2 linked regions of the Homo sapiens genome follow. The protein of the gene in region 2 purifies or fractionates together with the protein of the main gene of each other region. This does not show direct contact. Each region holds a gene or a part of one and is shown on either strand. Other genes may lie near its edges.

Region 1 (7,867 bases), on a different chromosome or scaffold from region 2:
ATACAATGAAATAAGATTCCCGTTTAACTTTTTTTCCAGTGGGAGAGAAGGAGAGCAAGGCAAACAAATCGCCAAACACAGCAGAAAATAGTGTTTATCAGACAGATACCGAGACCCAGGGGTGTGCCGGGTTCTGTGGGCCACATGAGGGAGAGTATGGTGTCTGCCCCTCTCAGAGAGGACTGAATTGCAAAAGCAGACGTTGTCTCTAGTTCCTGGAAGAATGTACTTTGTTACATCCTGTAGGGACCAAACCTTCCAAGGTTTTAATGAAGGACCTCTTGAGAGCTGATCAGCGTATTTTGAGAGGAAAAAGTTGAATAGCAGAATTTTAAAGGGTTCAATTTTAAGAACATGAAAAAATGAAAAACTGTCCAGATTTGTCTCTTCATCTAGCCCTTGACTTGAATATAAATTCTCATAACTCTCAGACAAGTTGGGAACTATGCTATACTGTTTTTATCTGGAACATTCTGTGTAGCATTATTTGTATAATTAACTATAGTTCCTAGATAGCATCCCAAAGTGATAAATTCAAGAGAAGTGAGACTGCTGGCCTAGCTCCAGACATCTAAAAAATACAAAATAAACATAATCTCCACTTACCTTTAATCATGTTTGCAATAGGAATCCATTTCTCTTTTAAAGGATCATAGAACTCAGCCTCTTCTGCTGGAGCCCCTTTTCTGTAACCACCTAAAGCATAGACACAGCCACCCAAGGTGACTGCACAGTGGTAATACCTGGCATTGAGCATTGGCAAACCTTCTGTCCATTCATCACTTTCACTGTTATAGATCCACACTGTGTCAAGAGCTTCTATGTTATCCGTCCTGTAGCCCCCAGTTACATAAATGTTGGGTCCTAAACATGTAACACCATAGCTCTCCCTGGTATAATCTGGTATTTCTGCTCCCTGAATCCAAACATTTGTCAAAGGATCCCATATGTGAACCTCTGATAAAGGATGCCAGTAATAGCCTCCAATTATATACATTGTGGCTGTGGACCTCTGGGAAATCTCTTTATGCATGGGATTCAAGGCATTGTATATTAGGGAGCGGATCTTATTTTCGGTGAGCAGGCAGCTTCTTTGAAGGCCTAAGGCTGTTTTTAAGTACACTGGATCTATATCAATGTTGATATAGCTCAGTAGATTATAGAGGCATTCAATTCGATTTTCTACATCATGAGCAGTCCACTTAATAACTGGCTCTATGATAGCTTCTTCTTTCCAAACACTGAGATTCTTTCTGGACAAGATAAAGAGAAACTTTTCAAGGCTGATTTCCAGAAATTCTTCTTGTTGCCACACTTCCTTAAACTTTGAACATAGAATTCTTCGAGATTCCTTCTCTAGTTCTGGACACACATGAAATTCTGCAAAGGAGTGCATTCCAATACAATTATCAATATCCAAGTGCCTTACCAAAAACCGCTCACAAGCCTTCTTTACTGAAAGGAACTGTAGCAGATCCGCTGCCTCAAGCAGGCTTTGAACATTTCTTTTAGTTATTTCAATTTGGGAAGTGTATGCATAATTTACAAGGCCTTCCAGAATATCATGGTGGATGCCAGAGAGTTTTATTTTATTTTTAAATTTTTCTTTCATGTCAGCTGTGAACATTGCCTTAAAATAATTGCTGCAAGCAGCTAAAACGGCTCGGTGACAATGGAAAATTATGCCTGAAGGACACTGAAGAGTAATATCAGTAAATAATCCATCCAAGTAAAATGTTCTGAATGCATCCAGAAAATCCACTGGATGTGTTGAATCCTTGAAAAGATAAATATAATCTTCTTGTCCTTTTAGAGCCATGGCTGCAATAAATATGAAATAACAAATGTGTTTTCAATGTTGCACATTCTCTCAAATAATCAACGCTAAATAACTTGACTATCATCGGATATACTCCAAAACTGGACTAAGTTCAGCATCTAAATAATAAATGCAAAATGTGGATGGACTGTTTGATCATTTATATGGTGGTCAATTTAAATTCAGGGTAGCTCGGAGCTTGAAATGAGGCTCCTGGATTTTTCAGTAGTCCTTTTGAGAGTACTGATTTGCTATTCCATTCACCGCAATCTACCCTGGCCTGGCGTTCGGAGATGAGATCCCACACTAGGCAAGGCAAGTGTCCGAGGGTCACCCCACTCGAGGCCGGACCTCAGCTGTCTCGGCTCGGCCCCAATTCAACCTTTTCCCCAAGCTCGTCTCCCTTTCAAATCACATCGAAATGCCAAGAAAGGGATGATGGAAATATAAATGGACAAGAAGAGGTCTCGGAAAAGGGAAATCCCGAGCCCTTTCGCTTAAGGAAGGAGAGAAAGGAAGGCAGCTCGGCGCAGCCCTTGCAGCCCTCGCCCCCTCCCCCGCGCCCGCCGCAGGGGTTTCCGCGCGCCCCGCGCCTGGGCCCCGGCCCACGTTCCCGCCCGGAGACCGCCCCGCCCCGGGGCCAGGAGCGGGGCTGGACTCGAGGGCGCCGCGTGCCGCCCGCGGGCCCGGTGCCCGCGTCCCTCTGCCCGGCGCTCCGCGCAGGTGTGGGAAGGACGCCGCAGGCAGCCCCAGCGCAACGCGTTCGGCCCGGCCCGGCGCCCGCGCGGCCATTGTCTGCGCTCCTCTCCCGCGCGGCCTCGCTGCCCGCGCCCGGCCCCGCTGCCCGCGCCCGGCCCCGCTCCCCGCGCCCGGCCCCGCTCGCTCCCAGCAGGCCGGCCTCGGGCTGCGGGTCCACACCGCACCTACCTCCCGCCGGGGCTCGGGACGCGGCGCTGGCCCGCGGGCTAGTAGCGAGCGGGAGCGGGGACGCCTCCGGCCCCTCTGACCATCTTTGGAAGAGGCGCTCGGAAGCCGCCAGCTAGTGCCGCTCCACCCCACAAGCAGCTCCTATTTTGGTGTCCCGGCGGCTCCCCCGCCTCCACCCGAACAGCCCCCCGCACGGTCTGGGCGCGAGGCCACTCGCGGGAACTCCCCCGTCGCCGGGCCGTGCGGCGAGCGGGGCGGGGCGTGCAGGCGTGAGCACGGCTCGGCCCCTCCCCAGCGGCGCCCCCCACAGCAGGTGGGACTGCTTCCCCAGGAGACAGCGCGCGCCGCCGCCTTCCCCTTCCTTGGCTCGCTCTCTGTCCCGCGCGCTCTCTCACACCCGGTCGAGCGTCTTCTCTTAGATAAACTCTGAGTCCTGAATTATTAATAACACCATATATGAGTGTGTGTGTGTGTGTGTGTGTGTGCGCGCGCGCGCGTGTGCATGTGTGTACACTCCCCTCCCTCAGTAGGCTTCGCCAGCCCAGACTCAATCGTGAGGACAGAGAAGGGGGAAAGAGTGGAGAGAATGGGGCACAACTAAAGGTCAGGGATTGGAGGCGCCGTTGAAATGCCAGAAGTAGCCGGCCTTTCCCACAAACGCCATCCCACCCCCAGCAAAGCACTCAGGAGGGCGCCTTGGTGCTGGTGAGCACATCAGGGGTTAAGCTGAAGCTTTGAGAGAAACTTTGGGCAGCCGGGGCCAAGGCGAAGTCCAGGCGAAGTCCAGTCGTGCTAAGATTCAGGTTATTGTATTTAGAGCATAGCAGCTGGAAGGAGCAGCCTTTCTGGTGACGGCCACTCTAGTCACAGATGTCTATGTGGTACACAAAGTTCATTTTCTTGTTCCAACTAAAGCCAGTATCAAATATTTTTGTATATCATTCATTCATTCATTCGCAAGATTTTATTAAGTGCTTCTAGTGCCTGATAGGGATAGACACTAGTAGTGATAAGAGTGTTGACAGATGGTCCCTAGCTCACAGGGACCTTCACCACCACCAGAGGACCATGTGTTTCCCAGAGTATGGTCTCAGAAACGCAATATACATGAATGGCCAGATAGTATGTGACAACAGAACTCTGAACCACATAAGAAGCCCAGGAAGCCAGACCACAACCTTGGTAGCAGCTGAACCAGAACAGTCAGGAAGTAGTCAACGACTGGCAATTTCCCTATTTTTTTTCTTTTTTGAGACAGGGTCTTGCTATGTTGCCCAGCCTGGAATGTAGTCGCACGATCTTAGCTCACTGCAGCCTCGATCTCCTGGTCTCAAGAGATCCTCTGCCTCAACCTCCCAAGTACCTACGACTACAGATGTGCAATTTTTGAAAAATTTTAAATATTTTTTCATGACAGGGTCTCACTATGTTGCCCAGGCTGGTCTCAAACTCCTGGACTCAAGCGATCTTCCTGCCTGGGACTTCCAAAGTGCAACTTCCCTATTTTTACCCCTAGTTCCACCTCTGCACCAACCAGAGAAAGCCAAATATGTTCCGCAAACCCATCACATAAAATACCCCCGCTTCTAGTAGCCCACCTGCAGCTTTCCCATGCCAACAACTTCCAATCAGAGCATACCGGGGGCTTTTCTTCACTTCTATAAAGCTTTCCCACTCGTCTGCCCCACCTTTGAGCCTCTGACAAAGTGATGGTGAGTGGGACTCCCTTCTACAGCAAACTCTGAATAAATAGCATCTGTTGGTTCTCCTGTGGGTGGGTTTTAGTTTAATTCCACAAGTCAGATCATCTTAATTGAATTATGTAAGATGCTGGTTATGCAGCCCCCACAACTACCACACCCCACGCACAGACGTCTGCGGGGTGGAGACCTAGGGATCTGCATTCTAATCAAGGGCAGCAGGTGATTCTTATGGACAAATAAGAGAATGTGTTGGACCCAAAAGGAAGAAGGATGAAAGTTTAACATCCCAACATCTGGTAAACAGTATAGTTAGAAAAGGAAAGCATATGAGATTTAGTTTCGGGCTTAAGGCTCATCTCTGCCACTTATCCAACATATAGCCTCTCACAAATTACTAAACTTCTCTGATCCTTCGTCTTCAGATCTGTAAAACACAGACAACATGGATACTTTCTCAACCTAACCTAAGGTTATTGGAAAGACAAATTAATAATGAAGCACTTAGGACTTGATATATAAATGTTAGCTACTATAATGAAAGAATATTTACACTTAATTCTGCATCACAACCTTAATTTGGAAATTAGCATCTTCTTAACATTTCTTCAGAAATTATGAACTTCATAGTTAATAGTAATTATAGCTTGCCCTTCATAACTGATAGTGATGCTGTTGTCACTGTTGCCATTCAAGGACACAATTGTGACTGATTGAAGGAGACTTCTCTCCATTTTTGTCACTGAAGTGTAGAGATGGCTGTTTTTGCAGCTATAATTACTGTTTGCCAAGTTTGATGTATAAAAAAATATAGGCTCCATCTAACTTGGAGTAAGGGCTTCTGGAATCATAACTACATGTAATAATAAATGATTCATGAATAATAGAATTCACTATATTCTCATTTATGCAGTTATTTCAGATGGCTGCATGAACCAACTAAAACTCTTGCTTTCATTTCGTGATGTTCCCTGGTTGTGAATTACTACTTAAAAGTGTATATCAGTGTATATTACATATTAGACTATTATACTGCTTCACTTTGCTAAGAGAAGAGCAGGTCCTGAAGGGTATTGCCTGGCATAGTTCCTCTTTACCATGTGCTTATCAAAGAGACCATTGCAAATGCTGATAGATTTGATGCATTCAGAAACATATAATTAGCATTCATAAATCAAATAAATTAATGATACCGTTCAAGAAAACAGATGTGCCATCTGTGGTTCCAAGTCTTAAAGAAATAAAGTGCTGCCATGGAAATGAGACATAAATGATTTGGCAGATACTAAGCTTGGCATGGAGTTAGATGACTTATTGACATCACACTTCAGCTTTCAAAGGACTCCGAGTTCTAAAAATAATGATTTTATTTATAATTTTTACCTTATTAGTACATCTTTCCACTAAGTACAGCCATGCCATTAAATGTTTGATATGCTGTGATATCATTAACAATGTGTGTAGATGATGGGCATAGATAGAACATTTTGTATACTTCATTTACATACTGGATTAAACAAGTTGCTGCCAAGTTAAAAAAAAAAAAAAAAGGCCAGGCCCATTGGCTCACGCCTGTAATCCCAGCACTTTGGGAGACCGAGGCAGGCAGATCATGAGGTCAGGAGTTTAAGACCATCCTGACCAACATGGTGAAACCCCATCTCTACTAAAAATACAAAAATTAGCCAGGTGTGGTGGTATACGCCTATAATCCCAGCCACTCAGGAGGCTGAGGCAGGAGAATCTCTTGAACCTGGGAGGCGGAGGTTACAGTGAGCCAAGATTGCGCCATAGCACTCCAGCCTGGGCGACAGAGTGAGACTCCGTCTCAAAATAAAAAACAATAGTAGGTAAAATGTATAAGGCTACCACATACAGCTTTGCAAATTGTGCACTGCACAATTCCAGCTCATGCAACTTAAGTAGAGTACAGTGTAAACACTGCTCTCAGGAGTTGTATAGTACACAACCAACGCAGGTATCTGTGGCTGCCCTGCAGCCGATGTGTCTTGGTAAAACCTTTTTTGGTATGTTTCCTGTAAAATAAGAAAGTGAACATTCTAATAACTAGGTAAAAATGCTTTTGCAAGTCACAGGTTTCCAATTCCTGGTTTCCAGCAAAAGTGAAAGAGGATTTTTGGCAAATAATTTGGAGGGAATGACAAAATGAATGGCATTACTATAAAAAAGGTTTTTTGTTTGTTTTTTTTTTTTTGAGACGGAGTCTTACTCTGTCACCCAGGCTGGAGTGCAATGGTGTAATCTTGGCTCACTGCAACTGCTGCCTCCCAGGTTCAAGAGATTCTCCTCCCTCAGCCTCCTGATTAGCTGGACTATAGGTGCATGCTACCACGCCCAGTTCATTTTTGTATTTTTAGTAGAGATGGGGTTTTGCCATGTTGGCTAGGCTGGTCTTGAACTCCTGACCTCAGGTGATCCACCTGTCTCAGCCTCCCGAAGTGCTGGGATTACAGGCATGAGCCATCGCGCCCGGCCACTATGATAAAATTTATCTCATTCTTACCTATTTGTCTCTGTGAACATGTTTTCTCAGCGATTATGTCTATAGAAATGTTAAGCAGGAACATTATTGAACCTAAATACTGTCTCATTCCAGCAGTAAGCACTACTTGACTTCATACTCTAAATGAAAGTAGCCCTATTCATCAGATTGAAATAATTTTTAATAATTTTTTACTTTTGATTTAAACATATTTATGTTTAATTAATTATAATAATAATTATAATATTAATTAGACCAGGATTTGTAAAATAACCAAAGATATAAAACCATCAAGGACATACAAATTGTAATTTATACACATTTTTGTCACAGAGAAGGTTAAGAGATTAATAAAAGATATTCAGTATAAAACCATACAGAAAAGTCTTTCTTTTTTTTGGCCTGGCCAAAAATGCTTTCTTTGAATGGTTCCAATATGTATGAATTTTAGTTACCATGGTTTAGTTAAATAACACCTGTCCCCTGAGAACAAGGTTTCAAATTTCAGTTACTGAAGTAAATTAACTCTGAGTAACTGCATAAAATACAAATTTGCTGCTAGCTCCTCAGGTCCATGAATTACTACATTAACAAATGCGCATCCTGATCAGTGACCAATCATGTATCTTCTTTCAAAGTCTGTCAGTGATTGATCTCTGTGCATCTGTCAGTTCACATACAGACAGTAAGGCTTGCAGTTGCATTGTCTCCTTGTCTGCTAGTAAAAAACCCATGTGACATTTTACAAAAATGGGTGATTGAGAAAGGGTATTGACCAACAAGGATGAAAGTATGGCATGGAAATAAAAAGTGACAATACCGCAAATAAAATGTGAAATGGCTGGGCATGGTGGCTTACGCCTGTAATTCCAGCACTTTGGGAGGCCAAGGTAGGCGGATCACCTGAGGTCAGGAGTT
Region 2 (7,400 bases):
TTTTTTTATATTTTTAGTAGAGACGGGGTTTCACCGTGTTAGCTAGGATGGTCCCGATCTCCTGACCTCGTGATCCGCCCGCCTTGGCCTCCAAAGTGCTGGGATTACAGGCGTGAGCCACCGCGCCCGGCCTCACACATAGGTTTTAAGTTACATTATCTGACCCCAGAGCTGTAAGAAGCTGTAGAGATCATCCCACTAAAATACCCTTGGTCCCACCCTTCTCCATTTTACAGCTGAAGTAAACCAAACTGTAGGGCGGGGAGGTAACCTCACAAGGCTGCATGGTAAATTATGGACAAAACTGAAGCTAGGCCCTACATCTTTGGTTTGTTTTTATTGACCCTATGCTCAGTTGACAAAAGAAGCCTTAGATCCCTTGACTCTCAGGCTGGTGCTCTCTTCTCCAACCCAAGCTGCCCTACCTCCACACCTCTAGCACAGAGGTCACAGCACACTGAGAACCTAGCACAGCGCTCCGCACCAGGAGCTATGTTAAGAATGGAAGAACAAAAGCCCACAAGGAGCAGTTAAGCAACAAAGTCTTGTGTCATTATCAGCCAGACATCAGGTACCCAGTGAGTCCCAGCAGGTGTGAGGTCCAAGGCTCATTGTTAGCCCCAGACCTCGTTCCACCCTAGACACCTCTTAGGGTGGTAGTGTCCGCCACCCCTCCCCTTGTCTTCCAGTCTCCCTCTCTTCCCTTTTGACCTCAGCCCCCAAGGCCAGAAATGGCTGCTGGGCCACCAGGGTTGGGTTGGGGCAGGAAGTGGGGGGTTTACCTGCCCGAACAAAGTAGCAGTGCAGGGAGTGCACGTGGACGTCTTCACTCACAGACTTGGCTGCAGCCACCAGGGCCTGGCCCACGATCTGACCACCAAACAGCCTCTTGGCCGGTACCCAGTAATGCCTTCCTCTGTAGGGAGAGGGGGAAAGAGGGAAAGACTTGGGAACTGGGCCAAATTCTACTACCCTCACTAAGACTCTAATGCATGATCTCTTCACCATATTGGGGTTTAAGATCCTTTTGAGAATATGGTAAAAGCCATAGGTCCTTTCCCCAGGCAAATATCCTTATGCATAAAAATCCTCTGGGCCGGGCGCAGTGGCTTACATCTGTAATCCCAGCACTTTGGGAGGCCGAGGCAGGTGGATCATTTGAGATCAGGAGTTCAAGAGCAGCCTGGCCAACATGGTGAAACTCCATCTCTACTAAAAATACAAAAATTAGCTGGACGTGGTGGCATGCACCTGTAATCCCAGCTACTCAGGAGGCTGAGGCAGGAGAATCACTTGAACCCAGGAGGCAGAGGTTGAGGTGAGCCAAGATCGCACCACTGCACTCCAGCCTGGGTGACAGAGCAAGACTCCATCTCAAAAAATAAAATTAAATAAATGTATAAATGAATAAATAACAAGAGCCCTCAGACATCAAGTCTAACTCCTTCAGTGTACAGATGAGAAAACTGCAGCTTGGCCCCAGAGATGAAAATGCTTGCCCAGAATGTAGGCCCATTGGAAGCTGAATAATTATGTCTCTAGCCTCCCACGTCCCAGCTGTTTGGCATTTTCTGTAACAATGAGTTATGAACAGCCCTCCATGACCTGGCAGGTGGCTCTCGCCTGTAATCAATCCCAGCACTTTGGGAAGCCGAGGTGGGAGGATCGCCTGAGCCCATGAGTTCAAAACCAGCCTGGGCTCCAAAGTGGGGCCTCATGTCTACTAAAAATAAAAAAGTTAGCTGGATGTGGTGGCAAGCGCTTATGGTCCCAGCTAAACGGGAGACTGAGGCAGAAGGGTCACTTGGGCCCAGGAGGTCGAGGTTGCAGTGAGCCATGTTCGTGCCACTGCACTCCAGCCTGGACAACAGGGCCAGATCTTGTCTTCAAAAACAAAAATCAAATAGCCCTCCAAGAAGTTATTTACAATTCCTTAAGTGGAAGGAAGGGAGCTCAAAGTAAGATAACTTCCAGTAAAGCCAGGAGAAGCCTTGGAGGTCAAAGCTGTTAGAAGCCTTGCTGCAGGGGGCTGGGCGCGGTGGCTCATGCCTGTAATCCTAGCACTTTGGCAGAGGTGGGCAGATTACAAGGTCAGGAGTTCGAGACCAGCCTGGCCAACACGGTGAAACCCCGTCTCTACTAAAAGAAGTTAAAAAATTAGCTGGGCTGTGGCGCGCCTGTATGTCCCAGCTAATCAGGAGGCTGAGGCAGGAGAAATGCTTGAACCCGGGAGGCGGAGGTTGCACTGAGCCGAGATCGCACCACTGCACTCCAGCCTGGGCAACAGAGCAAGACTCCGCCTCAAAGAAAGAAAGAAACCCTTGCTGCAGTCAAGAACTTCAGCGATGCTGGGAAAGAAAAAAACATGCTTAGGCCTCAGAATAAGTAATGAGAAACCAGACCCACCAAATGGTACTGGGGGCGGGATATTGTGAGAAGAAAAGGATACTGAAGACACAAGGAGCTGCGGCGTCGGTTTTAAGGCTGATCCATCAGCTGTGTGCCCTTGGGCAAATCACTGCCCTCTCTGGGCTAGCTCCCCCGTGAAGGCTTAGGGCAGGCTGCCGAGCAGGGTCTCTCAGGTCACCACTATATTTGCTCAGCTGTGCAGACCTCGCAGCGCGGAGAGGAAGGGAGGAAGCCAGAGCAGAGAGGACAGCTCTGTTGGGGGCGAGTTCTCTCCTAATCGTGGCAGAGGGTGCATCCCACGCAGAGCCATACTAGTCCCGGAGCCAGGGGCCCCGGGCGGCGGCAGTCAAGATCAAGTTTCTGCCCTAAAGGAGGGGATGCTGGGCAGGAGCTGCCGGCTACCTGAAGAGATCCTCGTCCAGCGGCTCGAGGTTGAGCACGGTCGTGACCAAGACGCTACGGAGGTCCCCAGGGGGATCGCCGCGGTCGCCACAGCCCTGCCCATCTTCTGGGGCCTGCGGGGACGACATCTAGTTCAATGCTGCAGGCCCTGCACACCCGCTCCGCGGAAGACGCGGAGACATACACAGAACCTGACTCTTCCGGCAGATTGCCCTAGTAACCGGAAGTCTCCTGCAGACCCCGGGAAGGAGGAATCTAGGTTATGATTGGTCAGGACTCCTGTCAGTCCGCTGGTGGCTGTGGCCCTCTTTCTCTAGCAATTGGAGAAAATGAATGCCAATCTGCGAATCCTGTGTGTGACTGGATATGTCGCTGAGGAGGCGGAACCTCGGGACTGGATAATATGGACTGAGTGTCATTTCCCCTGTCAGATAGCAAATACACCCCCTTCCTCTTGTAACCCGGTCAGGCCTAGGGTTCCTCCCTGAGTTCCAGAATAGGCCACCCAGTTGGGGCGGACCCTTAAGGCATTCTGGGCCCACGCCTGCCTATAAACCCTCATAGTGTGACCTTTGACCCCTGGTGTGATCTTGGGCCCGGGCTGGGACCAGCCCCTAGTGTGGGTTGTGGGGGCGGCCATGGAGCTGGGCAGCTGCTTCAAGACCTATGAGGACTTCAAGGAGTGCTTCAGCGCCTACAAAAGGGAGAACAGGTGCTCCTTCATTCTCAGGGACTGCGTCTCCGTCCGCTTCCACAACCTCAACCATGGCACCTCCATCCGCGAAGACATCCTGTAAGGGCGGGCGGGGCGGGGCGGGCCAAGAGGGTGGGGAGGAGGCTGGACCTCCGGAGGGCTGCCTGGAGGAGGAGGGGTGCATAGGCACGCATTGGGCTGCGTGGCCATTCATTCAACAGGCACTCATTGAGCACCTGCTGTGTGCCTTGTGAAGAGAGCTAAGCCTCCACGGCCATTGGTTTTTGACCACCCACTCCACTTTCACTCCATTCACAGGCTTTTCTGGAATTTATAACTGCAGTTTCTCCCATTGTTTTGAGCAGCTGCAGCAACCCAAATACAAAGTATGGCTTTCATAAACGGATAAAAACACCTTGGCGATAATTTCCTTCATCAGTCTCCTCTTTACAAAACAGTCACATGGTCGTTGGAATGTTCGTTCATTCATTCATTCAGTTTTTAGTTCTTATATATTTGTTGAAACAGGGTCTCACTCTGTCCCCCAGGCTGGAGTGCAGTGGCACAATCAGCTCACTGAGCCTTCAACTGCTGGGCTCAAGCGATCCTCCCACCTCAGCCTCTCAAGTAGTTGGAACTGGAGGTGCACGCCACCATGCCTGGCTAATTATTTGATTTTGTACAGACTGGGTCTTGTTATGTTGGCTAGGCTGTTCCCAGACTCCTGGACTAAGCGATCTTTCGGCGTCTCAAAGTGTTAGGATTACAGGCATGAGCCACTATGCCTGGTCTATTCATTCATTTTGTAAATGGTTTTTGAGCTCCTTATATTAACCGTTTTCAAACACTTTCCATGTGCCAGGCAGTGTTCTCTATGCATGCTTTACCCTGCAGGGCTTTTTTTTCAGAATTATAGATAAATGTTATTTTTTTGCATTTGACAGATGAGAAGATTTGACAGATGAGAAGTCAGGCTTAGAGGTTAAGACAGGAGTTGAAAACTCAAATGCCTTCAGGGATTAGGTGAAACAACCCAATGTAAGAAAGTTTTAACTTTGAATTTTACTTTAAGAAAAAGAATGATGAAATAGCAACCAACACCAGGTCTTTGTGCTAGGGACAACAGAAGTGTGAAATGGGCCAAATGGAGAGTAGATGCCATCTAATCAGCTCCAGCTGATGGCTGCCATATGAAAATAAAGATCTAGTGTTGCCAGAATTTTGGGCAAGAGTTGTCAGAAATCCACACTTTATGTGGATTTTCCCATTTAAAAAAATTGAATCAGTTCAAATTTTAACTCAGAGCATGCGGGCCAACTCAGAGTTAAAGCATATCCGAGTTTGAGACTTGGATTGAGATGCTCAACCAAAGCTCCTCAATTAGACAGCCAGGCTATATTCTTTCCACTGTTCTGAAGTCCAGTGCTATGCTGGGTATAGGTGACATAAAGATGAATAAGTGTTCAAACTATCCCCAGAGAACTAGGATAAACTTGAACTCAAGCAAACTGGTGTGTGATAAATGCTTTAAAAGGAATGTGGAAAAAAAAAAAAAAAAAGAAATGTACGGAGAAAGAAATGAATGACAAATGCCTGGGAGGTGGGGGAAGTCTTCACACTGGAATTGATGGTTTCCCTGGGCTGTGAATGAATGTAGAGTGCTAGAGTAGATCTGTGGTTAATTACTGAGTACCATGGAGGCATTTGACCAGAAGTTGCTGTGCAGAAGGACCTACAGGAGCAAAGACAAAGATACATGAAAGAAGGTTGGCATGTTAGAGTAACAGTGAGGGATACCATGTTTGGCAGGAGATGAAGTCATTTGCAGTCTAAGGGTCTTTAGGGACCATTGTGAGGTGTTTGGACCTTGTCCTTTATGGGTAGGACCTTGCTAAGCAATGAGAGGAATACAAAAAAAAAAAAAAAAAAAAAAAACCACAGTTGCCCGTAAACACCCTTCAGGAAGACCATCTCAGGTGGCTAGCACAAGGTGTGGCCCATAGCAGGCATTAAATAATTATTGAATGAGTGAGTTATCAAGTACTAACCATGTGATTCAGGGAAATAGGTGCTGCGGGAACTCAGAAGAGAAAAATCACTGCGAGCTAGAGACGTAAGAGTGAAAGGGAGGCTTGAGCTGGGCCCCCAAAGATGGAGAGCTGTCAGAAGGTGTATTGGTTTTCTGTTTGCCACTCTAGTGAATTACCACAAGTTTAATGGTGCAAAGCAACACAAATTTATTATCTTAGAGTTATTTAGGTTAGAAGTCAGGCACAGGTCTTAGCAGGCTAAATCAAGATGTCTGCAGGGCTGTATTTCTTTCTGGAGTCCCTGGGTAAGAATCCATTTCCCGCCGGGTGCAGTGGCTGATGCCTGTAATCCCAGCACTTTGGGAGGCCAAGGTGGGCAGATCACTTGAGGTCAGCAGTTCAAGACCATCCTGGCCAACATGGTGAAACCCCGTCTCTACTAAAAATACAAAAATTAGCTAGGCGAGGTGGCACATGCCCGTAATCCCAGCTACTCAGGAGGCTGAGGCAGCAGAATTGCAGCCGGGAGGTGGAGGTTGCAGTGAGCCAAGATCGTGCCATTGCACTCCAGCCTCGGCAACAGAGCGAGACTCCATCTCAAAAAAAAAAAAAAAAAAAAAAAAAGAATCCTTTTCCTTTCCTTTTCCACCTCCTAGAGGCTGCCCAACACACCTTGGGTCATGGCCCCCTTCCTCCATCTTCAAAGCCAGCAGTAGCAGGTTGAGTCATCACATCACTCTGACCTTGCTTCTGTCATCACGTCTCTGACTCCCTCTTCTGCCTCCCTCTTCCACTTTTAAGGATCCTTGTGATTATATTGGGCCCACCCAGATAATCCCAGATAATTTCCCTATTTTGAAGTCAGCTGATAGCCACCTTAATTCTATCTGCAACCTTAATTCTCCTTTGCCATGTAACCTAACGTATTCACAGAGTCTAGGATTAGGACAAGGACATCTTCAAGGGACCATTCTGCCTGCCACAAGAAGATTAATAACCTGGAGGTAAAAATGGTGTGAGTCAGTACAGACGTAAACATGACGTGCTTCTATTAGAAAACAGTGATGGGCTGGGCACGGTGGCTCACACTTGTAATCCTAATACTTTGGGAGGCTAAGACAGGGAGATTGCTTGAAATGAAGAGTTTGAGACCAGCCCAGACTATAATCCTGGGCAACAAAATGAGATCCCCGTCTCCACAAAACAAAATTTAAAATTAGGGGCCAGGTTGTGGCAGCTCACACGTATAATTCCAGCACTTTGGTAGGCTGAGGCAGGCAGATGGCTTGAGGCCAGGCATTCTAGACCAGCCTGGGCAACATGCCAAAACCTCATCTGTACAAAAAATACAAAAAGTAGCCAGGCATAGTGGTGTGTGCCTGTAGTACCAGCTACTCTGGAGGCTGCGGCAGGAGGATTGCTTGATCCCAGGAGTCAGAGGTTGCAGTGAGCTATGATCGCACCACTGCACACTACATTTTAGCCTGGGCAACAACAGAGTAAGATCCTGTCTCTAAAAAAAAAAAAAAAAGCAAGCAGTGATGTATGTTTGCACGCACATACAAAAGCCATGAGGAGACCTGCTTAGCTAGAAGGAAGGATTTATGCTGGAGCAGCAGGAAAGGAAATTGGAGGGTTGATAAGCAGGTTGGTGGGTTGGGATTTGTTTTGTTTGTTTTAGGAGACAAGGTCTCGCTCTATTGCCCAGGCTAGAGTACAGTGGGAGGGTCATAGTTTACTGTAACCTTGAAATCCTGGCCTCAAGTAATCTTACTACCTCAGCCTCCTAAGTAGCTAGGACTACAGGTATGCACCCCCATGCCAGGCTAATTTTTTTTTTTCAATTTTTTGTGTAGAGACAGGGT

What was found. Proteins that work in one complex are often made in the same cells at the same time.
Region 1: the proteins of ACOT8 (region 2) and KLHL23 purify together in Homo sapiens (affinity purification with mass spectrometry; 3 studies listed by BioGRID and IntAct, with this or other methods). This does not show direct contact.

What each region holds. Positions count from the first base shown.
Region 1 is NC_000002.12:169,728,967-169,736,833, reverse strand, and holds the start of KLHL23 (kelch-like protein 23), read right to left. Parts: upstream 3,003-7,867; 5' UTR 2,747-3,002; intron 1,822-2,746; 5' UTR 1,820-1,821; coding exon 607-1,819; intron 1-606. Other genes in the region: PHOSPHO2-KLHL23 (kelch-like protein 23), read right to left, coding at 607-1,819.
Region 2 is NC_000020.11:45,854,377-45,861,776, forward strand, and holds the start of ACOT8 (acyl-coenzyme A thioesterase 8), read right to left. Parts: upstream 3,017-7,400; 5' UTR 2,940-3,016; coding exon 2,812-2,939; intron 917-2,811; coding exon 783-916; intron 1-782. Other genes in the region: ZSWIM3 (zinc finger SWIM domain-containing protein 3), read left to right, coding at 3,450-3,604. UniProt on the Homo sapiens protein: Catalyzes the hydrolysis of acyl-CoAs into free fatty acids and coenzyme A (CoASH), regulating their respective intracellular levels. Displays no strong substrate specificity with respect to the carboxylic acid moiety of Acyl-CoAs.